3 separate regions of the Homo sapiens genome follow, and regions 1 and 2 are each linked to region 3. Evidence: fine-mapped expression QTL. A gene starts in region 3. Each other region holds a variant in brackets. All regions are shown on one strand. Distances are between the middles of the regions. Region 1 overlaps STX16 (syntaxin 16). Region 2 overlaps NPEPL1 (aminopeptidase like 1). Region 3 holds the start of STX16 (syntaxin 16).

Evidence for each region. PIP is the estimated chance that this variant, and not a neighbour inherited with it, causes the effect.
Region 1: its variant is the best candidate, but not a certain one, in a credible set for the expression of STX16 in whole blood (INTERVAL, PIP 0.84).
Region 2: its variant is the best candidate, but not a certain one, in a credible set for the expression of STX16 in whole blood (TOPMed, PIP 0.86).

The regions. Positions count from the first base shown.
Region 1 is chr20:58,670,239-58,680,513 of GRCh38, reverse strand. It overlaps STX16 (syntaxin 16), which reads right to left. Exons shown (of 9, transcript NM_001001433.3): 6 at 9,911-10,002; 7 at 9,217-9,360; 8 at 6,803-6,883; 9 at 988-4,327. The coding sequence ends at 4,223. STX16-NPEPL1 (STX16-NPEPL1 readthrough (NMD candidate)) reads right to left here. Exons shown (of 23, transcript NR_037945.1): 6 at 9,911-10,002; 7 at 9,217-9,360; 8 at 6,803-6,883. Among named protein-coding and RNA genes, the nearest start is that of NPEPL1, 17 kb to the left of the region's middle. RefSeq lists enhancers at 3,637-4,161, 4,162-4,687, 9,214-9,869, 9,870-10,275. The variant T/C (reference allele first, on the strand shown) is at 5,799.
Region 2 is chr20:58,700,716-58,710,990 of GRCh38, reverse strand. NPEPL1 (aminopeptidase like 1) reads right to left here. Exons shown (of 12, transcript NM_024663.4): 6 at 9,833-9,975; 7 at 3,791-3,868. STX16-NPEPL1 (STX16-NPEPL1 readthrough (NMD candidate)) reads right to left here. Exons shown (of 23, transcript NR_037945.1): 16 at 9,833-9,975; 17 at 5,422-5,493; 18 at 3,791-3,868. Among named protein-coding and RNA genes, the nearest start is that of NPEPL1, 13 kb to the right of the region's middle. RefSeq lists enhancers at 8,426-8,957, 8,958-9,490. The variant G/A (reference allele first, on the strand shown) is at 4,198.
Region 3 is chr20:58,645,731-58,656,005 of GRCh38, reverse strand. It overlaps STX16 (syntaxin 16), which reads right to left and starts at 4,723. Exons shown (of 9, transcript NM_001001433.3): 1 at 3,868-4,723. The coding sequence starts at 3,999. It overlaps STX16-NPEPL1 (STX16-NPEPL1 readthrough (NMD candidate)), which reads right to left and starts at 4,753. Exons shown (of 23, transcript NR_037945.1): 1 at 3,868-4,753. LOC107985410 (a long non-coding RNA gene) reads left to right here and starts at 6,371. Exons shown (of 3, transcript XR_005647058.2): 1 at 6,371-7,017. RefSeq lists enhancers at 3,354-3,857, 3,695-3,964, 6,994-7,531 and silencers at 5,461-5,820, 8,219-8,513.

The DNA.
Region 1 (10,275 bases), 25 kb before region 3:
CTGCAGACTGCGTCTGCATACTCTTGTAGTGCTGGTTCAAGACTGGGCCACCAAAGACTCAGCTGAGAACATAACCCAAGAGGTCACCAAAGAGGTGTTGCCGCCTTTATGTGGTCCCCTTCGGGATGGAGGATTTCTTCAATGTTATTAAATAGCATTGCCGGTCAGAATATTCTTGAACCCTATGGCAAACGTCTCTCCCTCGAGAGTGGATTTGATTCTTGGACAGAGCCAGTGGCCAACATGCGAGTTGGGGAAATGTAATTTCTTAACAAAAAACACGGTGAGAGTGCAAGAGGAGGAGGTTGTTTCTTTTGTGTGGTTTGTTGACAGGCTCTGAAGGGTTCTGCTGTTGAGTCGCCGCAACACCTCAGGACCAAACGCCAAGGGTGCCAAAGAGACCTGGCATGACAGCTGCTATTTTTTGTTTGTATAGGTTCTGGTGATGAAACCACATACCCCTACCATCACTCAGGTCCACATCTCCCACCAGCAAAACAAATGCATCAAAGTCAAGTTTCAGGACAAAGGTCCTCCTCGGAGGACCCCAGGACAGGCACAATCAAGGGGAAACATAGTCTTGGCTTTGAGTTAAACTGGCAGACACTTGTCTCTCAAGTTTTTGGTGTAACAGAGTAGGAAACAAAATCATTTAGAAAGTCAAGTCTCTTACAGCCTGTGTGTAAGAATTGCTTCTCAACAAGGCACATCACAGTTTTATTTGGAGATTTCCAAATGTTTCTTGGTATGTATATAAAGCATATATTTTCATAAGAAAAATACTTATCTGCCTTTTAGGCAGTTGTTCTTTTTGTATATCAGATAGTAAATAGATTGTCCCTTTGAAAGCATCCATTAGATAGATCTACTTTCGGACACTGAGGCAAAGGCCTCAGGCACAAAACAGAGTCAGGGGCCCAGAGGATCACAAAACTGGCCAAGCCCTCCCCTAACACAAATGCACTGGAAGAAAACATGAACCCATTGTTAAAATTAATACTAGGATTGCAGGATGTTCTTTAATCTGCGTGATTGCTTTATTGTACAAAAAGTTTCCAGTAACAGTAAATTGGTTTTAAAAAAGGACAAAAAAGTCATTTTGGATAGAAGTGCTTCACTAATTGCTTTATTTAAGCATACAAGAAAAAAAGTTTTATCTGACCAATTACGTTGGAAGGGTTTTATTACCTTTAAGAAGCCATTAGCTAGGATAAAACACTGAAAGCACTTGTGTCAAAACAAATAAATAATGTAAATAACGCTCTCTCAATTAGCAGAGAAAACAGTGAATCCGTTAAATCAGAGACACACATCACTTCACAAGCATGGCCCAGCCAGCACCACCACCCCCAAAACGAACAAAACAAGAGACAGCAGTTTTCAGTTACAATCTTGGGAAAGATCAGGAGCTTTGGAAAACGCGTGGTAAACATGTCTGTTTCTCCTTCTACCTCCACTCAACCTGAGCTGCACCCGGACACTTTAAAGGAGGCATGTGTCCAGAGGCTGCATCCAGGGATGCCCAGAGGGAGCCTGCCCTGCTAGGCCTCCTCTCAGAGGGCGCATCCCAGGCAGAGGAGACTGGCCTGGGTGATCGTTACCTCCACGGCCCAGTAGAGTGTGGAAAAACATGAGGTGCCCACAGACAATGGCTGCCAGCGAGTAAAGGGAAAGAAACCCTGAGGTACCATGATTCTTTTCTCTTACTTCCTCAAATGCTACTGATCTCTCCCCAAGTACAGGCTCAACAGAAAAATACAGTGGTTTGAGGACCCCAAGAAGTCAGCACACAGGCCAGGGGCCAGCTCCAGGCTGGGTCTGTCTCTCCCACCTTGGGAAACCCAGCGCTAAAACAATTTTTTTTTTTTTTTTTTGAGACGGAGCCTCGCTCTGTCACCCAGGCTGGAGTGCAGTGGTGTGATCTCGGCTCACTGCAACCTCTGCCTCCCGGGTTCAAGCTATTCTCCTGCCTCAGCCTCTTGAGTAGCTGGGATTACAGGCGTGTCCCACCCGGCTAATTTTTGTATTTTTTGTAGAGACGGGGTTTCACCATGTTGGCTAGGCTGGTCTCGAACTCCTGACCTCGTGACCGCCTTGGCCTCTCAAAGTCTGGGATTACAGGCGTGAGCCACCGAGCCCAGCCCCTCCTTAAAACAGTTTCTAATCAGATCCGTTATTTTACCCAAATGGGTTGAGGGAACAAAAACCAACCCTCATCACCCTATTTGGTGAAAATAAATATAAAAAAAGATGATCCTCTCTTAAAGGGTCACTTTCCTTCAGGGGTTTGTAAGGCTCAGCACTTTAAAAAGCTTGAACAGAAGTCCGGTATTGCCACTGTGGACTGTTTTTGAGGCAAGTTCCCTAATGTGGACAGCCCCACACCTAAGAGCAGCAGATCTAACTTGGAACGTCTCAACCATGGGTTAAAATCAGATGGGATGAAAGAACACCTGCAGTGACTCTCAACAGCTACGGAAGTCTCACATTGCAGGGCTGACTGATGAGGTGCTGGCTTCTTATTCTCCGGCCCTCTTTCCTAAGCAATGTTTGTCAGGGAATACCAGGTCCGCTTCCTGAAATGCCAGGGCCCCTCTAGGACCTTATCATTCCACAGCCACATCAGTAATAGGAAAACCACCAATGGCTACCTGGAGGTGGCACCAACTTGGAAAGGGAAGGCTGGGCAGGGGTTTGGACACTAAGCCCATGAGCTGTTTGGACAACTTCAATCTCTGGAATTGAGTTTAAATTTCTGTAAACAACTTTAAAGTCAACTCTAGAGAGACATTTTGTGTGACTGGTCCAAATAAAACAGCACATTTAATGAGGTCATATTCTTCTTAAACTTTTTAAGAGAAGCAAAAACAATGGAAAAGCCATTAAAATTTACACAAAGACCATTAAAACTCTACTAGTGTCAATTAAAACAAAGCCAATAAAACATGAACAACTTCAAAGTTACCATCACTTTCCACACTGTTCTACAGTTATAGGAATATATTCAAGCACCATATTGATAATAGGTAGGTAAACGATGAAGTCCTACTTTGGCGGTCTGACCCACGCTCACACAAACGAGGAGCTTCCTAGTCAAGATGCCCCCAGTCCTTGGCAATGTGCCTGCTTCCTGGGCATTGCTCAGTGGCAATGGAAGAGCCAATAAATCAAATCGCTGGTGGAATATTTTACTTTGAAATGGAGTGATGTTTGGTTAATAATTTGAGATCCACTAATCCTAAATGGGGTGACCCATTTAAAATGGCCTCTGTGTAAATTCACAGTTCATTAAATAGAGTCTGGTTTGAACAGGTCATTATGTAGTTAGTATATAAGTAATGGATTGAGCAAGGATGGCTGGGGATACCCATGGGGACACACTGGCTGAGTCTGGTGGCTTTCATAACACTGTCAAGCTTTCTTTTAATGTGAGATTCATTTAAATCACCAACTTAAATTTAGGTGGTTTTGCTTAGTAACCTCTTTTGGTTTACAGTAGAAAATGCAGTGCAAAAATTTTAAATGAGGAATATTCCATTTACAATTAATTTAAAACTTATGAAGCTGTTTTAACTGGCCCATCTAAATGTGTTAATTAACATCAATGATGGTTTCTTATTTTTCACACTTTGTTACTCTGATCATTAACAGTGATGGAAAAGCTAAATTAAGTTAATGGGGAACGGATTATAAATTCTTAAAGGACTTCTTAGTTTGTTTTCAACTGGAAAATATATAGAGAAAGATGAAGGGGCATTTTTGCCTCTACTCATCAATTTTTGGTACCAAATTTCTTAAAAACCAGATGGTTTAAAGAAAATTTTTCCAAAAATTATGTTAACATTCTGCTCAGACATGGCTGCTAAAAAAATAGCATATACACATATAATACTGAACAGCTTCTGCAGTGCCTGTAAACTCTCAGCTCATTTTCTCTTTCTAAAAAAAATATATATTATAACTGATCCCAGAACTCAATCTCTATTGTGCAGCAGTATCAAAGGTCCTTAAATTCTCAACAATGAAGGAAAAACAAAAACCCATTCCCCGGACCGCTTGAGCAGGACTAGGGAAGGAGGAGTCCGTGGATGCAAAGGTTCGCTGCCCCGACGCCCTCAGATTCCTCGAGGCTGCACCTCTGCGGGCAGCTGGCGGGGCGCAGGCCAAGCCCCTCACACCCGGGAGATCCACACGCGCGGCACACACGAAAACCCAATGCCACTTATCGAGACTTCACGCCAACGAGGACAACAATGAGCACAATGATGATGACAAATAATATTAAAATCACAAGCATCTTCCGATTCTTCTTTTGATACTGTTCTGCCTACAAAAAGAGGAGGGAAAAAAGGCCGTCATTTTCCCCAAAATCCCAAATCAAGTCCCACTCGTTTCCAGAATGAGGCTTCCAGATCTCTCTGCACAGTGACTGAGGTCTCTGCTACAGGCTACATGATTGTAATCCCTCCAATCAATCCCACGGAATTCAATCACCAGGAGTGGAAGAGCCCCATGATCCTGGTGCTGCTTATTTACCCTGGACGTGGAAATGGATTTGTTGGAAACCTACTACTAAGACAAAGCCTGACAGGGAAGTGAAAGCTCATGCTTCCGGGTGCAGCTGGGCCTGCTTCTCCCGGCTTTTCCTCCTGCAGGCCGTGGCAAGTGCCCCTGCAGCACGGGTCGCCTGTTCCCGGTCCGTGTTCCTGGAGCGAATGCACAGTTCCTTCACCGCGGAAGGAAACAACGGGCTGGAGGACCGTACCTGGCAGGTAGGCAACAGACACCCGGAAGAGGCCCCATTTCGACCTCCCCTAAATTTGGAAACAAAAACTCATCCTTTGAAATAAAAACAGACACGTGTGCCCCATGGATGTCATATGCAGAAAGATCCCTCTGAGGCGCGTCCTCCCAGTGCCGCTAACGATACAGCAAAGGAGCCCTCCAAGCTCAATCTGGGGACGAGGCTGCACCCTGCACATCTCTTCACCTTAACACCGCATCCTGGAAGCTCGGCAGGAGCGGGAACTCCATCATGCCTGCTAGAGAAATGCCAAAGGGCCCCACCTGGCTGGCGAAAGACGCAGAGCACTGAGAAAGGAGAGCCAGAGGACAGCAGAGTTCAGAGGGCGCCGGGAGGCACGTCCAGGGAGAGCATGCGCTGCCTCTTCCAGACCTTGCTATGGCACAGGAGGGAGGAGGAGACAGCGGGAAGGCAGCCCTGGCGAGAATGGCAATCTCTCCTGCTCCATCCCCCGCGGTGGGCTTGTTTCCTAAGTGAGCCTGCCCGCCCACCTGGAGGAGCCCCTCATCCACCAGGAGGAAACATCAGGCACGGGGACAGCACCGAGAGTCCGGTCATGGGGAGCAGCTCCCGACGCTCAATCACCCTTAGACTAGCCGACTGCCGAGCACGCGCGTGCTGCCTACAGCCTTGTGGCTGGAGGGAAGATGGAGCACGCTGACTTTTCTAATAAGTAACCCAGAACACCAGGGAAGCCAATACTAAATAATATACTGTAAAACCTCTCAAAATGATTTATAAAGTAGAACCTAAAACAAAATTTTTAGTTCCCACTAGATTTGCTCACTCCCGCAGAGAAAGCTTTTCCTTTTATCTGTGTTATATTACAAAACATATTTCACTAGTTTTTATTTAAGAAACTTCAAAACCAATGCATAATTCAGCAGCACATCAAAACCTGGGTATTACAGAGTGAGAAACTTAAGTTAGTTTTCACTTTTAATAGACAGGGCTTGGCAACCAAATTAATCTAAATGCTTAAAAAAACCCTGCA[T/C]AGACAAGGTCAGACTTCTCTTCCCACCACAGGCTGGAGTCTCATATCCACCTACACATGGCAACAAGCCCCCTGAAAAGACAGCTCAGGGCTTCTGGTTAGACTAGTGCAAGGGCTGACTTTTTGTAAACCCAATACTGCTATTAAATGGGGCGATCTCTGGTATAGGAAGCGACTGATTTCAGAAAAATGGTAGAGTAGTCCAACAGTGAATTGGCAAAACACTCATTATATGGCTAGAAACTCCACTGGGTCTCAAAGATACAAGGAAATGGATATTATTTAATTTGTGAAGTATTGTTATATTCCTTTTAAAGAAAATACGTAACCAATTATATATGAGAGTCTCAGCCGTTTATGCATGTTTCTTATAACCGATAAGATTCCTAAGATGCTTTCCATCTATTTTTTTAAAAGAGAATATCATAAAAACATCCCTGAAACAGCTACCTTATTAGCACAGAATAAAAGAATTACTACTCTCACTTCAACAAACTTCTCTTTTCTCAAGGTAATACAGATATGCTGTGGTAATTAAAGAGAAGATTAGATTTTTATCTTCTGCAGAATGATTCTCCATCAGCAATTCATCAGGAATGTATCACAAGAGAGGCCCAAGTCAACGGCAACAAGCAGACAGATTTTCAACACATATTTTAGCAAATGCCCAATTGATTTCCTAAAACAAGAAGCATTAGAAAAGAATGAAATATTTTCTAAAAGAAAGAACTCCAATCTCTTTAGAATTTACTGTCACAAAAAGGAGTTCTTAGCAATTTTGGATTTAAGTGTGAGATACACCTGGAATCATTAACTGCAATAAAACGGCAACAGCCCCCACAATTGGCTTTAAATGAAATGATGAATCCCTTTTTACACTACTGTATTGAGAGTGGACAACACAAGAATGCTGAAGATCGTTATGGTGGAAAAGAACCCTCTTACCAATTCTTGATTATTTGAAAATAGTTCCTAAGATTCCCAAGTCTTGAAAGACATATTACCTTGTGAAGCTGTTTCAAACCATCTTCAGTTTTGATACAGGACTGTTCAACGTTATAGTCAATTCTGTCAAGGACTGTACCCTAGGTAATAAATGACAGTTACAGACAATCAACAATAGCAACTGGGAAAACTGAACGTCAAAAATGAGATATGCAAATTACAGACATCATCATCCATAAGATGATGTTTTCCTTCCCTGTGTGCTGCAGGTACACACGGAGGGCTCTGGAGTTCACCCTCAAGCAGTGTCAGGAGCTCGATGGCAGAATGCTGGTTAGTGCCATCACATCTAGCTCACGAGAAAGAAGTACTGACAGACTGAGGTTTCCTTATTGGTTTCAGCTGCCATAGAAATGCCATATTCGGACTTCCTGGGGCCCTAAGAAATCTATGGTCCAGTGGACAGAGGCTCTGAGCAGCACAGAAGCTCTGCGCCCATTTGCTGCCTACGTACTTGGATTCAAGTAAGCAGAGAACACCAGGTAAGCTCGCCCCTGTCATAAGTAGACCTGCAAATTGACTATCACGTCTATAAACGTGGATCCACATCTCTATGGGTCAGAGCAGGAAATGGTAAACTCCAGTCTACCACCTAAAATTAAAAATTTGGACTCAAGGGGAAGATGTTTAATTGTTTAATCTCTTAAACAATTAAATTGGAAGACGGGGACACTGGGCTATGAGGAAGAACAGAGCTTTTATTGGAAACATGCTGGATTAGAAGAGATAGCAGTTCACTGGGAACCACTGGAGTAATTAATGTAACTGGATCTTCCAGAGCCTGAACACTCCATTCTGCAGTTGGTTTCAGGGGGATCAGGACCCAAATCCCTGCTGGCAAGATAATAAAATGCCCTAATCAGATTTTAACGGTGAACAACAATTTAATTCTACTTGAACGCTAGTGGTTCCAATTGCCATTACACAATAACCTGCCAAAATTAGAAGGGAAATCTTCTATAGCGTCAGAATCATTGCTGAGCTCGGTCAGAGTCAACTAGGTCTCTAGAGTAGGGTGCTCACATGAGTACCCTCGAGGCATGGGAAGAGAATATTAGAACTTCATTTATCAAAAAAAGATTTATTAATATTCTTATAGGGAATGACAGTAGCCTATGTATATAATTTGTAAATACACACATATACAGGCTGAGTATCCCTTATCTGAAAAGCTTGAGACTAGAAGTGTTTTGGATTTGGGATTTTTTTTTTAGATTTTGGAATATTTGCATACACATAATGAGATATTCTGGATGGGACCCAAGTCTAAACACAAAATTCATTAATGTTTCTTATACCTTTATGTTTCATATACCATTAATGTTTCATATACATAGCTTGAAAGTAATTTTATACAATATATATATATATATTTTTTGAGACAGAGTTTCACTCTTGTTGCCCAGGCTGGAGTGCAATGGTGCAATCTCGGCTCACTGCAACCTCTACCTCCCAGGTTCAAGCGATCCTCCTGCCTCAACCTCCCGAGTAGCTGTTACAGGCACCTGCCACCATGCCCAGCTAATTTTTTTGTATTTTTAGCAGAGACGGGGTTTCACCATGTTGACCGCGCTGGTCTCGAACTGCTGACCTCAGGTGATCCATGTGCCTCAGCCCCCCAAAGTGCTGGGATTACAGATGTGAGCCACCGTGCCCGGCCACAATATTTTTACTAGTTTTGTGCATAAAACAAAGTTTTGACTGCAACCTGTCACATGAGGTCTTGTGTAGGGATTTTCCACCTGTGGCATCATGTTAACACTCAAAAAGTTTTGAATTCTGGAGCATTTTGAACTTCATATTTTCTGATTAGGATTGCTATGTATATATATCCTTTGAGTGTCATATTGGCACTCAAAAAAAAGTTTCAAATTTTGGAGCATTTTGGATTTCAGATTAGGAATGTTCAACCTGTATTATCATATATCATATTATTATTGCATTCCTCTCATTTAATCCCTAACAAGCATCCTATGAGGATGGTACTATGATTATTAGTCCCATTTTACAGATGAGAACACTAGAGTCAGAGGGATTAAATGAGAATCATGTAACTGTTAAACTGCTAAGAGCCAGGGTTCCAACATTCCAACCCCCCAGGGCTTTTCTCAAAGCACCACACTCCTCTGATAATTAGCACCCAGGAGACTTCAGTAAAAAATGTAAACACTGAGGTTTCAACACTAGTCCTATTATTTTAAAATTAATCAAATTTAATATTTGATTAATATTAATATACACACACACACACACACACACACACACACACACACCCACACACACATAAAGGACAGGTGCACACACATGTTGGGAAAATTGGCTCCAATTTTTTTCCCTGAAAGGAGTACAGGAAAAAGAAGGTACAGATAGTATGGCAGGAAAACCTATTCACGAGGAAGGCCAGCTCACGTACCTGTTCTACAATCATCGCCCCTAAGTCCCTGAATATTTCATTCAGGTCAGAAATGGACTGTACAATCTGGCGAATCTCTCGTTCCCGCTCTTCCACCATCAGTGTGTTCTGCTCCACCAGAACTAACTGGTCCTCTGTAAAACCCTAGCAAGACAGTGCACAATGTGTTGGATAGATTGTTTTCCCTCTCAGGAAAGCTATGGTATACTTGTTTAGATATAATTTAAAGACAATGAAAATAATTTAAAGAAAATGAATTCTGAAAATATTTCTACAAAGCACAGTAAGCACTCATTTTTCCCTAACAGGAAAGATTCAAATTCCCTAAACCAGCAGGATCTAAAGCTCTGAGGCCATAGCAGGGAAGACAGAAGCCCACGTCTGCCAACTCCACAAGGGCAGATAAACAAAACCCCCGGGATAGCCCTCTGTTTCTCTGGGCTCTTCCTAAGAAGGCAGGGTGTTGACCACTTTCCCAAAGGCTCTGGAAAGCAGATTACAAGGTCTCCCTGTGGCCTTTGGAAAGGAAGAAACAGTACGGCTGTTCTTCCACCTGCTGCAAAACAACCTGATGAATATACAAGTCAACTGTATCAATCCACTGACACTGCACAGAAGATCGAGGTCTAGGAGGTGAAAGATGCAGAATGGGGTGCACAGACACAGCAATCAGCTTTGCAGCCCGTTCACGTACCCGATGGTAAAGAGTGTTATCGTCTCCATCATCCATTAGTGGTACTGATGTGTCGAAAAAATGCTGGGATCTTTCCTCTCGATTCTTCATGCCTATCACAGATAGGAATTCATTTTACTTGAATATGTAAACCATCCTGAGTATTGTTCTACCATTAAAAGGGGGAATTCTAGAGTAAACTCCAACAGTCAAAATTGAGATATTCTTAGCCGCTTTAAAGAAGCCTATCTCCAATGGGGGTGGAGGGAGAGTAAAGGATTACAAACATACAACAATATGCAGGCATTTGGGATTACTCAAGACAAAAGTCACAGTGTAAATGTGCACAATTCACTTGATGCCAAGATAAAAATGACACAACCATC
Region 2 (10,275 bases), 55 kb before region 3:
CTGCCCCTAATTTCTGATCCAGCAGGTCTGGGGCAGAGCTGAGAACCCATATTACTAACAACATGGGGACCCCACTTGAGAAGTGCTGGCTTAGAAGACGAGCGAGCTGCAGTCCTGGGGCAAACAGTGCTGAGGTCTGCACGGCTGGAAGACGTGAGACAGAGACAGCACAGGCACGGCCCTGCCCTTGCGGCCCTCACGGCCAGTCTGGAGGTGTTCTCCAATCACCAGGAGCGGCTGAAAAAATCCAAGACTCAGCAGAGCTGGAGGTGAGCCCTGGAGCTGTCAATGTTCACACACTTCCTGGGTGTTACCTGGCACAGTTGGGACTTGCTGGTCTAACAGAAGAGGGTGGCCAAAGATGGGGCTGGACTGTGAGTGCTTCAGCGACAGCGTGGGAAGGGTCTCCAGTGCTACGCCAGGGCTTGGGCCTGGTCCCCCAGGGCGGCCAAGGGTTTTGGGTTGGTAAGTGGGTCAGGGGCTTTTTTTTTTGGTGCCAGGCTTGGAGGGTCGCTAACACCCCCAGAGCCCAGGGCCACCGAGCTCCTGGCGTACCCTTCCATCTTTGAATGGTACATCCTCTTTCTAAAAAGTTCAAAACATTTCACTGTGAAATAATTTCAAACTTACAAAAAAATTGCAGAAATAGTCACAAACAGCCAGGAGCAGTGGCCCATGCCAGAATCCCAGCACTTTGGGAGGCTGAGGTGGGCGGATCACTTGAGGTCAGGAGTTCAAGACCAGCCTGGCCAACAAGGTGAAACCCTGTCTCTACTAAAAATACAAAAATTAGCCAAGGGTGGTGGCACATGCCTGTAATCTCAGCTACTCTGGAGGCTGAGGCAGGAGAATCACTTAAACCTGGGAGGCGTTGCAGTGAGCCGAGATCGCACCACTGCACACCAGCCTGGGCAACAGAGCAAGACACCATCTCGGGGAAAAAAAAAAAAAAAAAAAAGCCACAAACAATTCCTCAACACCCTTCACCCAGATTCTGCCAATGTCAGCATCTTGTCCAGCCATGGGACAATGGGCAGCAGGGGGTAGTAATCACCAACACAGGACCATCACCTCTCGGGACCATCCAGATTCCATGTGCTCCTCAGACGTCCAGATCAGATCAGACCACACATCAAGCCTGGCCTGCTTGCCCTCCTTAATCTGGGCGACTGCATAGTCTGGCTTTGTCTTTTGTGGCCTTGGCACTTTCAGTGCTGGGTTTGTCTGACGTGTCCTTGTGACTACAGGCAGGCCATGCATTTTTGGTGGGAATCCTGCAGAAATGCTCTGTCCTTCCCTGTACACTGCCTCTGGAGGCATGTCAGGTGGCTCTGTCCCTGCCCTGGTGACATGCCCTGGGACACCTGGTTAGGCTGGGTTGTGAGTGTCACCACTATAAAGCTGCGAGAGGCACTCTGAGAGCATTTGACTGTCCTCTTCCCATCCCACTCTCATGCTCCAGTTCCAGCACTGTGGGCCACTCTCACCTGGAATGAAGCCTGGCTGTGGGGTGACGACTTCCTGTTTCCATCACTACCTCTGCAGCCTGAAACTGGGATTCAGTGTGAGAAACGGTTCTCCCCCATTCATTTATTCCTTCAGTGATCTATTCCTACCAGTGTGGACACGTGGATGCTGATTTTATTCTCTGGGTAAATGCATTACCCTGAGGATTGATTCTGTGGCTCAGACAGAGGCGTATTCCTTTCTAAGAGGCCAACAAGGATATGTGAAGGCCAAGCAGGACATTCGCGTTCACAGTGGAGCCTCCAGGCTGGAGCTCTTGTGGGAGGGGGATCTTTGTCCAGAGTGGGGGTGGGGTGTCCTCAGCACCCCTCAAATCTAGAGGTGCTCCTCCACCTCTAGAGGCCGCAGCACCTCTAGAGGTGGAGGAGTGCTGAGAACACTCACGGCTGCTGCCTGATGAATCTGTGATCATTTGTCAAGTGGCTTCCTGTGAACAGGGAATTCAAGCTCAGAAGAGTCTTCCTGCTGGGGCATTCCCAGCCAGCCTGTCCCAGAGGCAGGACAGACCCTCTGTTGGAGGAGTAACCAGGGGTGAACGGCAAAGACGGCCACAGAGGGCTGGCCACACGGCTCCTCCAGAACCACTTGCCCACCCCTGCCCCCGTGCCACCCCAGAGCAGCAACTGCTCCCTTCAGAGAGAGCTGCCCAGCGAGCACCGCACAGCTGGGCCCGTCCGCCTCAGCATTCTTCTGGTGAGCCCATCTGCCAAAGCCACGGGGCCTGGGCAGAGGCAAGGAGGAGGGCCAGGTAGTGGGAGCCCAGAGCCACCCTGCCCCGTGGCCTATGATGCTGGGGCAGTCAAGACCCTCCTTGAGTGCCAGCCGTGTCCCTTGGTAGTTTATAACCAGTGAAGGAGTAGCGCACAGAGGACACATGCTCCTCCTCCAGCCTCTTCCGACAGGCTCTGCAGTGGACGGGCCACGGCAGGTGCTCATGGAGGCATGGGGCTTGCAGGCTGCGTACAGCCCCAGCTGTGTGCTCAGCACGAGAGAAACAGCCGTGAGCCCTAAGAGGCCGTTTCCAAACCCGTGCAGAGCACAGGTGAGGGCCTGCCAGCCCCTCCTGCCCAGGCCGCCTCAGCCCCGCACCTCCGTGTCCCCACCGGCTGGGCCTGGTAGCAGAAGCCCGTCACACAGTCTGGAATGTGCACGGCCAGCTGGGAAGCCCCGGCAGAAGGAGCTCCTTCCTCCTGGGATTCCTCCTCCTCCCTCACGGCCAGGAGCAGGACCCTCCAGATTGGAAACTACTTGCCAAGGCCTTTTTGTTTTTCCATTTCAAGTTTACCCCAAGGAACTGGGTTGCTGGCCTGAGAAAGGTAGGCTAGGAAGGTAAAACCTCGGCTGATGAGTCAATGCACACTCCTCATTGGCCTGTTTCTTTAGACAGGGTCTCGCTCTATCTCCCAGGCTGCAGTGCAGCAGTGGGATCTTAGCTCACTGCAGCCTCAACCTCCCGGGCTCAATCGATCCTCCGCCACCTCAGCCTCCCAAGTAGCTGAGACTACAGGTGCGCGCCACCACGCCTGGCTAGTTTTTAAATTTTTTTTTATAGAAACGGGGTCTTGCAAGGTTGCTATGGGTAGTCTTGAATTTCTGGCTTTCAAGCCATCCTCCTGCCTCCGCCTCCCAAAGTTCTGGGATTACCAGCATGAGCTGGCCTCTTCATTTGTTTAATAAGCACTTTTTATGGCCCCAGGGACATCTGGGCTCCATGGGAAGGTCACTCAAGGTCACCCCCCACCCCCCCCACGCCCCCCGAGTGACTACTGCCACTGAGCAAGGGCTAAGCATTGGGGCACCTGCCCACGCAAGAGAGGAAGGGGGCCTGGCCAGGCCTGGGGGTTGGAGGTGGTGACTTGGTGAGACCAGTCACCAGAGGCAGCTCTGCTGCAAAGAAGGGTTGCGGGAGGGGTACGCAGAACAACGTGTGCCCCTGCCATGAGCTTCTGCCTGCCACATGCCATGAGGGTCTAGGCCAGGCTTCCTCATTGAGCCAACCGCTCATGGGGCTCTGGAGCCAAGGCAGGCCCTGAGCAGAGAACATGGCTGCACCTTGCCCTCGGGGCCTCCCAGAGCAGCTCTGATGAAGGCGGGAAGCTCTGGGGGCCCCAGAAGAGCCTGGGGGCAGAGGGGGGACAAGCATCCGCTGGGGAGACTCGGGTAGGACCCTGGTGGGGCCTGTGGCGGGACGGACAGGGGAGAGGGGAGCACCCACGAGGCACACCCAGGATGCCCCTGCAGAGGGCGGGCAGGGCCCACTCACCTGCTTGATTGCGGCTCTGAAGGCCCCCAGGACGGCCGCAGCACCCCCGCAGTCTCGCTTCATCCCCGGCATGGTAGTCTGCGGGTGGTACAAAGGGACCAGGACAAAGGTGAGCTGTGAGGTCCAGGCCTGGCAGCGGAAGCCCCCCACCCCCACCCGGCCCCACGCTAGCCCCACCTTCCCCAGCTCTCAGGCCTGGGCAGCCCCCACACCAGGCCTCCTGGGCACCCACAGAACTCATGAACCTCATATTGGCCAAGTGGGGTGTTCTCCAGAAGCAACAGGGAGTCATGGCCATAGATGGTGAGGCTCCCTTTTGTTTTGACAGAACTTTGGGGTTATCAAACAGTAACTGCACGGAGGGGGAACCCGAGGAGATGCCCGGAGCTGCAGAATTCGCTGTGGCC[G/A]GGCTCTGACATTGAAACAGGGACCCCGTGCTTTGACGCCGGGCACCCTGACCTCAGTCCCGGGCTGCCACGCCGCCTGGGGGTCTGTCTGCAGGGCCACTCTCTCCACTCCTCCGCACAGCGTGAGAAGGAAGCTGAGGTCCAGGGAGCCTCTGGGGCTTGCTGGAGGTCCCTGGCCAGCACCTCAGGGACCTGGGTGGGCTTGCGTGCTTCCTGCACCCATTGCAGATTCCTAGTGTGCTTATGGCAGGGAGGAAGCCTGAGGGGCTGCTGCCGCAATGCAAACCTGCCCTGGCCACCTGTCGCCCCCCAGAACAGGGCCTAGCTTCCTCTCCCTGGCACTTAGAGGGCTTTACCACCTAACGAGACTTAGGCTCAGCATTCTCTGCCCCTCATCACAACCTTGAATGATGGTGAGGGTTGATGTGAACTCTTCGCCAAAATCAGTCACATCCACCCCCACTGACACCACCAGCAGTGAGGACACCTGTCGCTCCTTCATGTCACTGCCAGGTCTATCGCCAGAAGAAGGGGCCACCTCTGCCCTCCTGCTAGTTCACACCTCCTGGTTAATAGTTCACACCTCCTGGTTAACCTGGGTCTAAAGAGGGGCCACCCTTCTCCTGCAGTGTCCACACTGTTTCCTATACGCTGGTTGACAGTGTTACACATTTTTACATTTTACAGGTTCCCAAATCAAATTCACAAGTTCATATTTTAAATTAACAGCAGGTCCTCAGAGGTAAAGGTTTGGGTATGAAATTTACTGAATCATTTTTGAACCCTTATCTTATTACACAAGCTTTGAATTTTAGTGCAAAGTATTTTTAGATGTAAATTGAGCTGCTTTTATAATTGAGTGAAAATGACCCATCTTGTACTACTGAAAATAAGCCATCTCTTCTGAGCTAATCTGTTTGAGAAAGCACAGGATTGTTTAAATGGAAAAACAGGGCCTCCGATCTGGAATCAAACCATGTGCAAAATGGGTCACACAGCAATGCCTGGAAACGGCTGCTCACTGTACACCATGTCTCCCCCGTCACAGCTGCCAGCTCCTTCCCAATTGCAGGTGGAGCCAGGACTGGGCTTGCAAATACAGCTCAACTGATTGATTGTGCAAAGTTTCACCAGCCCCCATATGTTGTTTCTGTTTTTATAGAAGAAACCATTTTCGCAGTGATTTAAGACGGTCTCTGCCTTTTTCACGGGGCTGACACTTACACCCCCTGTGCTGGAGTATCAGGCCACAGTCCCAAAGAGGTCCGGGAGCCACTGTATTCGTTTCCGTGCCCTCTGGGAAAATGAACCAATGCCAATTTCACGTTAGAATTTCCTTGCTGAAGCAGTAAAATTAATTTTTAAAACTCTCAACCCTTGGGTACAATACATTTTCCATATTCCGTGTGACTCATAATGTACTCCTGCTGTTGCTGACGGGCAGTGGTCGGTCAGAGCAGAAGCTCAGCTGTGATTGCTGGGGGAGTTCTGAGCTCCATGAGCCACTCTGGCCACGACACCATCTTTACTTGAAAGAAAAACTGACAGACAAATGGCATTTAATTGGATTTAGGTATCTGGCAGATATTTCCCAGAAAAGGAACAAACTGAGCCTCTTACTTCCAGAAACAGCTGACATTATTTATTGCCAATGGTATACATTTGAGCTTTTAAGCAAAAATCAGAATTTTGAAAAACTTTCTCCTATCACCATGACAACTTCCTCATAATGAGTTTTCTGATGAGATGGATGGTGATATTAAGTGATTTTTTGATACTATATAATGTAATGTGTCAAAAATTTGAATTTCTGCAGAACTCTGTGAACCAACATTTTTCAAGTGAACATTCATTTTTCCATGAAAAACCACATGTTCAAAGTGAGAGAGAACAGCGGATTTAACTGCCACAGAGCCCAAAAGTCTATTCATGAGGCTTCAGATTCCATGTTATAACCAGCCTTTAAGAAGCTACCACTTGTTGAGTTTTGGTGTAGTAGCAAAGAATGTTCATAGTTAGTTAGCTGAAAAAGGTACTAAAATCCTTTTCCCTGTTTCAACTATAAAATGCGTGAGGCCAGATTTTCTTGATACAGTTCAACTGAAACAACACATTTCCATAGACTACATCGGAAGCAGACGCAAGGTCCCTAGCTGTCTTCTATTAAGCCAGACACTGACAGGATTTGTGAAAATGTACAACAATGCTACTCTCTCAGTAAATTATTTTTTCATTTTGGAAGATGCTTATCTTCATAAAATTATTTATGATAACATGCAATGGATTTATATGTTATTTTTAATGAATTATACATGTTATAAATTTCTCACTTTTAATTTCCAGTAGAGTAAATATCAATAGACATTGTTATACAAAAAGCCTCTTTGGGGTCGGTACTTGTTAAGAGCGTAAAGGGGTCTCCAGTAATGCATTTGAGGCCTGCTAGTCCAGGCTGGTCTTGAGCTGCCCTTGAAATCTTTGAAAATGGAGCTGTGATTTTTTTTTTCTTGCAAAACTGGGAGCTGGGCTGGCTCCAGCCGGCTTGCTTTTTGAGGAGTGACCATTTCTGCACCATTTGCTCTACAGGCAGCCACTGGGGAGAATGCCTGCTGCGTTGCGTCTGCGTTTCACACCAGGCCGTTGGGGAGAGATTGTGAGCGCCTTCAGGTCAGGATTGGGGTCTTTGCATCAATGGCTGGAGCCTCAGCGCCCACTCCACACAGTAACAGCTCAGGAAAGGCCTGCTGGTTGATCCCAAATCCACGTAGAACGGTTCCAACTGCAGCGGGGAAGATGGGCTGGTTTAAAATAAAAAACCAGGTATTGTTTCACTGGTGCCAGAACACCCAGCTCTTCCTGGTATTATGGGGTCTGCAGACCAGGTGGACCCCGGGAATAGGCAGGGGCTATAGTCGCATTTTCAGAAGGTGATCTGGAGCCATGGAAAATGCCCTACTCTCTGGCAGTTCTACCAGCCACCCTCAGACCACAGCTTCCCTGAAGGCTGTGCAGCTGTGGCCTCTAGGGAAGGCCTGTGTGGTCAGGTTTTTCCTTTGTGTTAATTTCCAGGCCGGGAGCTGACTAACTGCACAGGTCTACCCACAGCCACATGAGATGAAGTCAGGTGCAACGATATTTTCCCTAAGTGACTAGAGTTAGTGCCACAAGCAAACGAATGAATTCCCAGGAAGCTCATCTTCTCACATTGGTCCACAACAAGCCGACATCAAAAACAAGCATCTGATCCAAGGAGAAGAGGGTCCACGACTCTACCAGCCAGAATGTAGCGGCTTCCAGGGTGACCGTGGGTATTGAGGGTGCGTGCGAGGGTGGGAGCAGCCAGTACCAGGTGCAGGCAGTAGGGGGTGCACTATCTGTGGCGAATTTAGGAATCATAACCGACTAGAAGTCAGTTTGCTTATTACCACCGTGTGCCGGTATCTCTGAACAAAGTCAGCAATAACATATTCCTCCTCCGAAAATCTGTTGTTGATTGAAGTTTAAAAAATTGCTGTGGCTACGGTTGCGTTTTAATCACACAAACAAAAGCTTCAAATTCGCATATCGTTGTTACTTATCCTGAAAGTAACATTACATGGACGTTAGCAATGACCCGACACAAAATCTACTACCCACATTCCTTCTGAGAATCGCTCTGACAGTCAGATCCTGTGGGCTGGCTCTGGGCACAGTCGGGGCCTCCAGGGCCCATGATTTCCTACCTCCCGGTGTCGAAACAGAGGACCCAAAATAAAACACGAGAGTGCGGGATGGTCAAAACGAAGACGCGGAACCTGCGTTCCTTCACTTCCCTCATTCCATGTGAACACTTGGAGTTACTGTGTCCAAAATGCTTTTGTTCTGCAGACATCTGAAAGCCACAAGAATCCACCCTGAAGAACTGAACACACAGTGGGTGTTGTGATTGCTGGAATTTACTGTGAAATGGGATTTTTAAGAATCTCTGCCAAATGATACCGTATTAAAGACTTTTCCTAAGTATCTGTGTATCTGTTGCCTCACGAGATTGGAGCTCTTCAAAATCAAAGTTAACAGATAGTATTCTTGGACCAACTATGAGTGAAGACAGCTGGCAACTCTGCCTACTGAACATACATTAGTAAAGAAGATCAATTTAAATGAAACCATTGTCAAACGTGTAGATGCTAAGACCCAAAGCCAGAAACAAACATTCATTCCACCATCTATTACCCCAAGAGACCCATAGGGAGGCATGTTTTTTCTATTAAAAAAAAACAAAAAACCCTTTTTATGATTAGTGTCATTTTCTGCTTAGTTCTAAACAGTTTTGTGGTTTAGAGGAGGGATGGGAACTGCTCATCCTCTCCAGGTATGAAATAAACTAGGCGTGCTAGAGAGCGCGGCGAGCTGCACCAGCGCCACCCTGAACAGCAGCTGACACTAGGGCTCAGTGTCAGGAAGGCAGCAGCAAGTGGTGGGGCCTACCGCAAACCAAACTGGAGAATGGGTGACACCAGGGGCAGGCCCACTGGCTGCAGGGGAATGCTGCCAGGCGGGAACAGAACGCCAGCACTGGCAGACCTTCTGAGTGCACAAAAGGCCGGAAATCCAGGCTTTGATGAGAATCCTTCCTGGTTTCAAATATTGGTAGCTAATTCAAATTTTAAAAATGCCAGGCCTCCGTGAGCCTTGCAGGCTGCTAGTTTGCAGTGTCTGCTGCGGATGCACTCCCTGCTCCTTCCAGACCTCCTGAGGTATGTACTTCCCAGTCTGCTCCCTCCCTGTCCTTCCCAGCCCAGGCCTGAGCACAGAGGCTGCTCACACGGTGTGTAGGATGAATGGATGGAGATGGTGCGGAGGAGGGCAGGGCTTGCTGGGGCGGGCAGACTCGGCCACGACGGGGGCTCCACAAGCACCTGTCCTCCTGGGATGGCAGGACAGAAAGCCGTACCACGGGACAGGCTTCTAGGGCCACCGCACCGGGATGTTCCCGGGTGACTCGCTTCTGTGCCGTGCCCAGATTCCCCTCGCTCTTGGGGGTCACGTGCCTTTGGAGGGTCTTGTGTGGCCACTCTGAGCGTTTTCTCAGTGGGGACCATGGGCAGACTCAGAGACACAGGCGTCCCCTTGCCCTTCTCTTCTCGGGACAAAGCCCCCAAGCAGCAAGCCCTGCCTCCCTGGCCCTGCTTGCCATTTCTTCCGTCATTTCCGGGGCTGCTCTTGGGCCCTGGCCAGGCTTTTGTTTCCAGACCCTTCTGAAGGGTGGGCATGAAACCCAGGGAGCCACGTGAAGCTGTCGCCTCAGCACATGGGAACCCGCCCTGCGCACTCTCCCCGAACCCACCCCAACCCAGAACCCCCAGAAACCTCGCCGCCCCCCACCCCATGACACCTCTCAGAGGGCTGGCTGGACCCAAACTGGGCCCCTCCCCCCCCCCCAGGGCACCCTGGAGAGCCTGCCGGCACCTCACCTTCCCCTCCCCACCCCACCCCACCCCAACCCCAGGGCACCCTGGAGAGCCGGGCCCACACCTCACCTTCCCCTCCCCACCCCACCCCACCCCACCCCCAGGGCACCCGGGAGAGCCGGGCCCTGCACCTCACCTTCCCCTCCCCTCCCCCAGGGCACCCTGAGAGCCAGCCCGCACCTCACCTTCCCTTTGATGCTGAGGCCTCCAGTGTCATAGACGATGCCTTTGCCCACCCAGGCGATGGTCTGCGTGGCTCCATCTGGGGTGTGGCTGAGGACGGCCAGGGCTGGGGGATGCAGGGCGGCTTTGCCAACCCCATAGATTCCTATGGAAAGCGTGGGGAGAACTGGGTTAGGCTCGGGCTGAGCTGAGCGGGGAACTCCCAGAGGCCCCTGGAAACTCTGGCCGGCTGGTGTTTCTCCTGGAGAGCCGCCTGCCTGAGCCTGGTGCTCCCTGCCCCTTCTCCTGCCCCTGGCCAGTGTGGGATTGGGGAATGCAAATTAGCTCCAATGTCTGAGATTGCAAACAAATTCTATGCAAAGTGTTGTTTGTTAAGCAAGAAAACCCACTAAGGGAAAAAAATATTGTATCCTTTCCAGAAAGAAAAGAACAGGATTGCAGAATG
Region 3 (10,275 bases):
ACGTGATGGGGCACTCAAAACTGAGGCCAAAGTAAAATGCATGGGAAATACGACTGTATTTTGTTAGGAGTGCATAAAGTCAAACCTGTCTGTTTTTTTACAATTAGTTTTACTAACTTTAATACAACTAAGAACACAAAAAAGTAGAATTTTGCTCAGTTCTGGATGCTGAAATCTAAAAAGGATACAGAAAAACTAAACATCATTTATAGGAAAAAAGCATAACCACTCTGAGCCGGGAATGCTAGGCCTGGAAAGAATTCTGGGTAACAAGGCTGCAGGGTTACCAGACAGAAGGAAGACCCGAAGGAACAGAACTAAAAGCAGGACCCCAGGACACAAATAGTTGGGATTAACAGGCAAAGACTTTTTAGTGGTAAAAATCATGGAGCTGCTGGCATTTTCCATCATTGTCATACACCATGGCCAAATAAGATAGGCATGAGGGGTTATCACAAATGGGGACATTAGGCCAAATGACCTTTAGGTTCCTTCTGGCCCTTGAGGCTTTGTGTTTATCTGGTCACTGCGTATCCTCCTTAAATTCCTGTTTATTTGACATATTTGCCTGAATGCTGCAAAACCCTGTATGCACGCACAGGGACACACAATAACCCCACTACAACAACCAAATTCTAGTTTTTTCCCTCAAACTAGGATGCAAAAAATGCATGTTTAAATTTTTTGAATGGCATGGCTTTAGGTGTGCTTTGCTTTGAGGTGTATGATACACACTACTCTGCAATTAATTTCTGCAGCTTTTTCCTGAAATAAGATGTCAAAATTCAGGATTACAATTTTTTTTTTAAAAAGTCTGTTATTTTAGGTGTATTTTTAGTTGGTATCAAATGCATCAAGATCAAAGTCTACAGCTTTTTCTTCTAATTGGAAACTTAAAATTCCAGGTTATTATTTTTTAAATTAAGTTAAACTTAGGTTTAATTTCTTCCTTTCAAATTGCCTGAGTGTTAGACATGTATTTACAAATTGCCTCTTTTTAACTGTTTTACTTTACTATAACAAATATACTTACTTTAAGTTTCTATTTAAAAATTTTCAAACATGCAGAAAAGCCTACAAAATGGTAAAATGTCGCACACATACTCATCACTAGACTTAACAATGAGTAACAATTTGCCTTATTTGCTTCCTCTATTTTTGGAGGGGTTTAAGGACTTAGGTAAGATGCCTTGACATTTCACCACTAAACATTTCAGTAGGCATCTCTAATAAAATTAGCAAATGTAATGTATTATAATTAATTCCTTAATGTCACCTAATACCTAGTCCATATTCAAAATTTGACAGATACGATTTTGTTTGGTTTGCTACATGGCTTTGAAATTTACAAGTCAGAAACAAGGCTTTAAATTTTTTGTGAGCTAGATATGCAGTGAAAAGCATTGCTAAGAGTTACTCAATAGATTTTACAAATTGTGTTAAACATGGCTTTTGCTTCAAAATGTTTATAAAGCTTTTCCAACTTCCAGAAAAGTTGAAAAAATCATAACCTCTATTTAGTCTTGTTAGCATTTCGCCGTACTGTGTGCAGAATAGATTTTGTTACGAATCACCTGTAAGCAAAGTGAAGATGTAACACTTCAACCCTAAATACTTCAGAAATTTATGACATGCCATTTTTTAACACAATTAAAATATATAAATCTGTGTTTTATTTTTAAATTTGAATTCAGGCAAACTATGTTTGTTAGACTGCAAAACCTATTTTTGAGATAGTATGGATTGACTATAAGGATATTTTAAATGATATGACTGCTTTCAATGATCTGAGAAAGATTTTAAATGGTCAGACTAATATAAATATTAACATTTTCAATGGTATGACATTTAGAAAACATTTTTTAACGTTCTTAGAAATGTATTTTTAGTTGGGTTTAGAAATCTATTTTCAAAAAACTGTGAGTTAGCTAAATGTATCTGTATATACCCTGACATATCTATTTTTCCAAACTGTATACGTTAACTATCCATTTTTAATTATTCTGCTTAGCTTAAATATTTTTTAAAATTGCCTAACTTAGAAAATAATTTTCTAAAGTGGTCTGATTCAGAGATGCACTTTTAAAAAGCTTCCCGTCTCAGATACTAGGTTTTTAAACTGTCTGACTTAATCGGGAAAAAAAAAAAAACCCTCATGTTACCCAAAGGTTCAGGGTATTTTGAACCTTAATGATTAAAAATTGAAAAATAAACAATATGTTTTTCAATTAAAACTGATACCTTAGAAATCTTAATATGAGTTTCAGTAGTTTTTGAGGCAGCACAAAATCAAGTCATTTAAGGAACATGCAGTTCTTATTTAACATTACTGAAGTTCCATTAAGGAATTGAATTCATCCAATTTCTACTCGATTTCTTGGATTATTTCTTCTTCAAAATTAGCGCTAGAATTAGCCTGTTTCTATGCTACCAGACATCTTTACATTTATTTCAATATAATGTAATTCCTTTCCGTTTATAAATGTAAAAAAAACCCTTCAACTTCTTAATTAACTGAAATCTCACACACACTCTGTCCCTAGTTCTAGGCTGTTTGACCTGAGTTTACATGCTTTTATTCCTGAAACCGCTCACACGGCTTAAAATGACTTTTCTATCAGTTATATGGCCAAAGACATTCTCCACCTGTGACTTACAAAAAGGAGAAACTGTCTTTGTAGACATGATAATCATGACATATGGCAAAATTTTCCTGAAGCATTTAGATAAAGCCATAAAGAAAAAAATAAACTGGCAATACAGTCCCTAAGAGGTGAAATGAATGTTCCAAAATTGCCTAATATCAAGTATAACCCCCAAGAATGTGGTCCTGGGATGGCTATTTCCCGCCTGTTCCAACGCTGCTTCTATTCCAACCTAGTCTGCCTACAGCAGGTAGCCTGAACTACAGCCAGTTTCATAACTTCACTTTTCAATTGAAGACATTACAGAGCTAACGATCACTGTCTGGTATAGATCATCCAGACTCGCCCCTTATTTAACAGAGCAGTAAACTGAGGCTCAGAAAGGGAAAAGTAGCCCCCATTAAAAACAAACCCCAAACAGTAATTTTTCCAGGACCACCCTTAAAAAACGCTACTGCTAGGCTAACTAAAGGTTGTGGTTAATTAAAAAAAAAAAGTGCTATTTTACGGGGTTAATTTTCACATATACCTCCTCAGGCTTTTTTTAAAAAGTTCGAATGGAGAGGAAAGCTTAATTTCCTGTCTGGGAAATGGAAAGTGAAGAGGCTAGCACCTTGAGTCTCACAAACGCAAGCCCCCAGGAAGAACAGTGAGGCAATTATTCACAGGGAACAAGGCCACACAGAGGGCTGCGGGGCCGTTAAAAGAAAACGGGCGGAAAAACAAAACAAAACAAAACAACAACACAACTCCCTCCTCTTTGAGGGGAGGGAGTCGTTCATTTTGCAAGGATTTGGGTCTACGATCCGGCGACCCAGCCCTTAGGACCAAACTGAGGCTCATTACTGGGGGGAGGGGAGCTTCAAACAAAACGAAACAAAAAGGCTTCAGAAAGGCCCAATGCTTCCCAATGTTAGCGTTAAAACATATGTAAATTACAGGCGGCCTGTAGCGCAGTGACGCCAAGGCGGGGGGTGCGGGGGGGGGGGTGCTGCGGAAGTGAGGAGAAGACCGGGCAGAGGTGGAGCTGCGGCCTCACAGCACCGCTTCTTCCTCATCCAGGGCTACAGATGCCCCCTGACTCTAGCCAAGAGATCTTATTATTCTTAGTCTTATTATTCTTATCTTCTCTTTTTAAACAGAGAGACAGACAGAGACAGACAAACAGGCAGAGCCGCAGTGCACACGGTCCGTGTGTCGGAGAGGCCGCCAGGAGACTCACCGCAGCAATGCTACGTGAATGCAGAGGGCTGGAGGTGATGTGACTACTCACTTGCTCGGCTAACAGCTGCCGGTTTTGGATGGAATTATTCCGCAACAACAAGAAAGCGTCGGTTAAACGCCTGGTGGCCATGTCTCACCCTTTGCGACCCCCCTCTCAGGGGCCCCCCGCCCACTTATATTCCTGATTTATTCACTTTCTTTCTCGTGGCCCGGCTGGCCCACCCTTTCACGGAAGCTTCTCGACAAGGCCTCAGGCCTCAAGCCAAAAAGATGCAGCTGTGCGCTTCGCCAAGGCGTAGAGACCCCTCCCCAAATAACTACCTAGGCTTTCCAATTGTCTGACTCCCCCTACCCAGGGCAGACTTCGATCTCTAAGCACTTGAATCCCCCCAATCCTTGCGTAGCGATCCAACGTCCCAGAGACCCCACCCCAATCCAACCTTGGATCTACAAGCGTCTAACTCGCCAATCCGGCTCTAGACTGGGAGGCCCTGAAGCCCCCTACTCCCTGAGACCCCCCGGAGGTCTCTGCTCTCTACCCCTAACTTTGGCTCGTAAGCGTCTAGGCCGTGCCCTGAGGTCTGGCTGTGACTCAGTTTCCGCACCAGAGGCCTGGCCTAGGCCCTCTTTGGACAACCGGAGCCAGGCTTGGGGCCTGGACTCGAGGGCGCCTGCAGCTCCCTTCTGGGGACTTGTCTGAACCTGCTGAGGCCCTGCCCGACCTCCTGACCCCTTCCTTTCCTGGACGGCCTGGTCCTCCACTGCCAGCAGGCTGCCGGCCTGCAGGAAGACAGCAGGGCCTGCCTCCCCGGCCTTCTCACTCCTCTTCTCCGGCTCCCTCCATCCCCGGATCTGACTGCAGCTCAGCCCCGGACCGTTTCCGTGCTGTGGTCCCGGGTTCTGGCGTTCCCCCCTGGCCCTCTTCCTGTCCGTCCCTCGCGAGTGCCCCCCTGCGACGCTCGCAAGCCTTGCTCGCAACGTTCCGGGCGCGGGAGCTCCCTGCACTCCTGCCCCGGGGCACGGGAGTGCTCCGCCCTCTCCCGGGGTGCTCCTCGGGCGCCCTGTTTCGCCTCCCCCAACTGGGTCCAGGCACTAGGAGCAGGCCAACGAGCAGGCCTGAGCCTGGGGAGCGTGGCCCCCAGGCTGCAAACCGCTGCCAGGGCCCTTGGTCGCTGAATTAGAGTGGAAGTTGCGCGGCAGGCAAATTTGGGCTCCCCAAGAACTGAAGTTTTGGGCGCGGGGAGTTGGAGCGGGAGAGGAAAAGTTGGAGACGACTGCCTCTGCAGGCCGAGCACGCTCTACTGCAGGCGGCGGCGCTCGCTTTTTTTTTTTTTTTTCCCACTCTGGAAAAAGATGTATCCGACAAACAACCACGAGGAAATAAAAGGAAAAAAAAAAAAAAAAAAGGAACAAGAACTCCAGGCAGCCTGGCCGCGCCGCCGCTGGCAGTCGGGGGTCGTCGGGGGCGCCCGCCCTCCCCAGCTGCCGCTTTCTGTAGGGGGCACTGCAGGGTCGTGGAATCTCAAGTGGAAAAGTTCCCCGAAAACTTTGACACCTCCCACCCCCCTCCCCGCGAAAAAAATCTCTGTTCCCTGCCTGGGCCCTGGCCCTGCGACCCCCGCGCCCCCCCGTGCCCCGGGCCGGGTTTTCCACGGTTGGCCGGGCCCAGGGCGCCCTAAGCACCTCGACTTGCCGCCCCGGGCCAGGTCGGCGGGGTTCGTGCAGGGGCTCCGTGGGGCCGCGTCGGGCAGGGGCCGCCCGGGCCCGAGCACGGCACCCACAAACAGGCTGGCGTCCCGCGACGGAGACCCGGGTCCGGCCCGGAGCCGCCCGGGAGGCTTGAGGCCAAGGGCCTGGCCCAGCGCGCGGCCGGAGCGGGTCGGGGGCGCAGAGCTGTGCGGCGGCGCCTTCCGGGCCCCGGGCCTGTGCAGGGCCGGCTTCCCCTTGCGGGGCGAGGCTGCGGGCCGGGCTGCGGTGCGGGGTTCCAACAAAGGACCGAGGCCCCAGAAGCGGCCCCCACGCGTCCTTTGTTTCTGCGTGGAACAAACTTTACACACGTGTGTGTTTTCCGAGGGTTTCCCGTGTGCTGAGCGCTTGCAAAGCGGAGTCGCGCCCGGGGAGACGCGAAGCCGGTGCCCGCGGCTCACCCAGGGACCCCAGCCAGACAGCGGCACCCGCGGGGCGCGTGCGGGACCCCCAGGCGACCGGGGGAAGCACCGGTAACCGCCCCCCACCCGTGCTTTTTCTCTCACGGAGAATGTTCCCGCGCGTTCGTTGTGCAACTAAAAATTAATGTGAAACATCCATTGAGGCAAATAACAAAATGCATCCAACGAAACCCACATAAAATCGAGAGAGCCGCGAGCAGGGCTGGGCGAGTTCACTGTGAGGACCGGCTCTGGCTTCCGCGCAGCGCGGAGAGCAGGGCGCTCGCCCGGGGACGCTTCGCAGCGGTGGAAGATTCGGGCGACAGGGGACTGGGTCGCCGCGCGGGCCGGGCTGGAGGCTGCAGGGACTTGCTGACAGGCCATCCAAAGACAGAGAGGCCCTGGGGAGGGAAATTCGGGGAGCCCGTGTGCTTAGCGTAGCGCCCCGGGAAATATTTGCCCAATAAGGGAGAGTTTGTCCCCACACTGCGGCAGAACCCCCCTGCGAGCTCTGACCCCAGCAGCACGGCCAAGCCCCCCCAACCCCGCTCCCCCCTTTAGGGGACAGGTATTTGTAAATAACAACTGAGCTGGTCGTCGGTAGGAGAATCAGATTAGAAACATGGTCCCCACTCTCTTCCTATCTCCCCAGCACTCATCACCTCACAAAGCAGGGGGGGACCTGTTTACTTTTCCTGGCGCTCTCCCCCAGGCTAGAACGTGATCTTCTTCCTACGCAGGGACAGTGTTTTATTCATCTTTGTACCCACTGCCATCTCATCTGGCTTGGAACAGGCTCCGGATAAATATTTTTTAAATATGTGCATGAATTAATGAGAGACTCGAGATTTAGTCCCCAAACTCTCTGACCTCCCTCGAGTGACTTTAAGCCTTTAGAGCCCTTATCTGTTAAGAAAAAAAGAAAAAAATGTGGGTTTTTCGTAATCCTCGTAATCCGCGCCCTGTCTACTTCTCTGGGGTTATTGTGAAGATCAAATAAGGTAAGTGAAAACTCTTTGTAAACTACCAGGTGCTGAGCAAATATTATATAGGATGGTTATTCATTCATTCCCTCCGTTCAGGAAGCTTAGCAAAGTAATTCCTGGTCTTGTGTTTCAGCAGATGGTGGTCGCCTTTCCTGGTCAGTCTTAAATATTTATTACAGGACAATCTCATTCTTACATTTAGGAGATCAATCAAGCTTCCATTTCTTTGAGCGAAATGAACACTGCTTGCACACAAATAATGGAAGAAAAATCCTGGTATTCCCAAAACAGCCACCCCAAGCAACCCAAGAGCCTAACAGCGGGGAGGTCAGGAAAATCCAAGAAGTTGGCATAGCAGCCCAAAGGCAGCACCGTGCAGCTCTGACCAGGCCCCAAAGGCAGCACCGTGCAGCTCTGACCAGGCCCCAAAGGCAGCACGGTGCAGCTCTGACCAGGCCCCAAAGGCAGCACCGTGCAGCTCTGACCAGGCCCCAAAGGCAGCACCGTGCAGCTCTGACCAGGCCCCAAAGGCAGCACCGTGCAGCTCTGACCAGGCCCCAAAGGCAGCACCGTGCAGCTCTGACCAGGCCCCAAAGGCAGCACCGTGCAGCTCTGACCAGGCCCCAAAGGCAGCACCGTGCAGCTCTGACCAGGCCCCAAAGGCAGCACGGTGCAGCTCTAAGCAGGCTGTGTTTAGGTATGGGATTGTGTGCCTGAAATAGTGTTAACCAAGAGGGAGCCCAGAGAGGGCATGCACCCCTGGCTCCAGTCACGTCCATGGTCCATGTTCGCCCTGACCCACACTGGAAGGGAGTTGGGGAAGGATGTAAATCATTATATTTGAATGTTCCTTGGCTGTTTTATTTTCCTGTCAAGTGACTTAAGCTTGATTTTTTTTTTTTTTTAAAGCATTCCCCCATGGCCAAGTATGTGTTTCCTTGGAATTGAAATCTAGGTTGATGGTTTTACATTTTAAAAGCTTTCATTGTGACTCATTCTTGGCCTGGGCTAGGATTCGGTAATACTCCTCGGGCTTGGTGAGGCTCCGTGTCCTGTTTCTTGGGCTTCATACCCACTTTCTAACATTCTGCCAACGAATCCAATAAGTCACTTTTGGGGACAAGTGTTTCATTGTTTTCTTGTCATCTCATTCAGTGCAGGAGGAAGCCCCATTGAAGCCAGGCCATGGCTTGGGCAGGTGCAGGTTTTCAAGTACTGAGAGGGGATGGTTAGCTCAACAGGTCAGCAGTGGGACACACACCCTTTGGTGAAAACAATTTAAATGAGATAGGGCTCATGTAAGCCCTTATACAACCTCAGCATAGAGTAAGTGCGCCACAAATGGGCAATATGATTTATTACAGCAGTAGTCTTACTGTTGGAAAGCTCACGTGGGCTCTGCTCTCCCTGGAAGGCATCATAAACTCCAAAGAGAATGGCATGGTATTGAGAACTGAACACTTGGAAATCTAAGCACGTTTCCGAGCTTCTTGTTCTGGACCTTGGGAATCCAGATGTGTCTGCAGTGCACACTCATGTGGAAGAGGGGGCTAAACCATCTCAAAGACACCTTTTAACATTGGTCTTTCTCCCACCTATAGAAAGACAGATGGTTGTTTGCTTATCAAGCAGCAAAAGCCCCCAGGCCTAACATATGTCTCGTCTGCACAGATCTGACAGACAGATTCGGGCCAGGTTCGGGTAACAGGAGTTGTGTGTTCTGTGTCCCCAAATAGTTCCTCAAAACCTTGAGTATTTCCAACAACAGAAAACTCCCTATCTGGGTCTGTCTTCAGCTATGATGCCTCTCCCAAGAAGGGAGACTCTGGAGAGAGGCAACACTTTTGTTTTGTCTGGAGTCCCGTAGCTTTTAATACCAGACAATTCAATACAGTAGGCATTTCTAAAAATCTACCAGTGGCTGTGCCTATCTCTTGCCAGGCACTGCTGAAAGAATGAAACAGCAAAACTCTTGCCTTCAGGGAATTTGCATCTCCACTGTCTCTACCCAAATTCTGGTTCTCATCGTGTACATTTTCCCAGCAGCCTGCTAACAACCACCCGTCTCTTCCCTCCTCATCCTGCAGCCACAGTGACCTTTCCAAAGCATAAATCTGATCATGTCACTGCCTGATTGAGGCCCTGAAACAGCTCCCTCTGGCCCATGCCAGCCGATCTCAAATGACGCTCAGCAGAAAACAGGTGCTCTAAGTTGAACCAAGCTGGGCATCACTAATATTAACTAATGATGGACTTTTCTTGGTTGTCAGAAAAAAAAAAATGAAGCTAATTAATGGAGTAGTCTCCATCTTAAGTGTTTCTCTTCTCGCTTTCTCTTAAACCTTCAGTCCCTGCCACCACTTGGCTGTATTAGAATATAGTATAAGACTAGATCTGATTTATTCCAGAATCATGGATTTCAGTACAATTTTTTTCCCATAGATCAGTATTTCCTGGAGTTCTGCATTTAGGTTTTCTACACTTTCCACATGGCGGAGTGCCCCCTGGGCATTCAAAGCCCTGCCCAACAGGCCCCACCTAAATGGTGAGCTTTTTTCTTTCCAGGACTTGGCTCACAGGCCTTTCTCTGCCTGGTGGGGGTAGTGGCGGGGGATGTGTCTTGCCCCTTCTGCTTGGTGAACCCTTCATTGAAGACAGCACCCCCTACACTGTCAGGTGTGATAAATGTTTGCGGAATGGATGACTGGATGGATTAATGCACAAAAGGTGAGATTAACTATATTAAGTGCTAGAGAATACCAGACAGTCAAGACTCAAAATGGGTGGAGAGATTAGGGCAGTTCTCTGTCCCCCTCGCTCACCCCTTTTCAGCCACACTAGCCTTCCCACCATTCCTCACACCTCCTTAGCACCTGCTTTGCTCTCCTTCCTAGGTTCTTCAAATAACTGGCTCCTTCTCACCACTCTTGTCTCAGACTATTCAATAGAAAGTAATCCTCCTACCCTGTCCACCGTGTGGGGAGAGGACTCTCCTCTCCCAGGGCCCTTATGTCACCATCATACCAGGTGCCTGCCCATGCTTGGTCAAGTTCAAGACTGAAACAATGTCTAACATCGTGGCTTTTGGTCTTTGAGGCCAAGAAGAGGCCTCTTGGGTCACAACACATGCCAGCAAAGCATATCTGCATTTTACTTTTTTTCCAGGATGATGTGGACACATGTGTACTCAAATAAATCAACCCTCCCATCTTAACCATCTCCCTTGGCAGGAACAATAAGTTAATGTGCCAAGCCAGGACTGACCTGGATGAC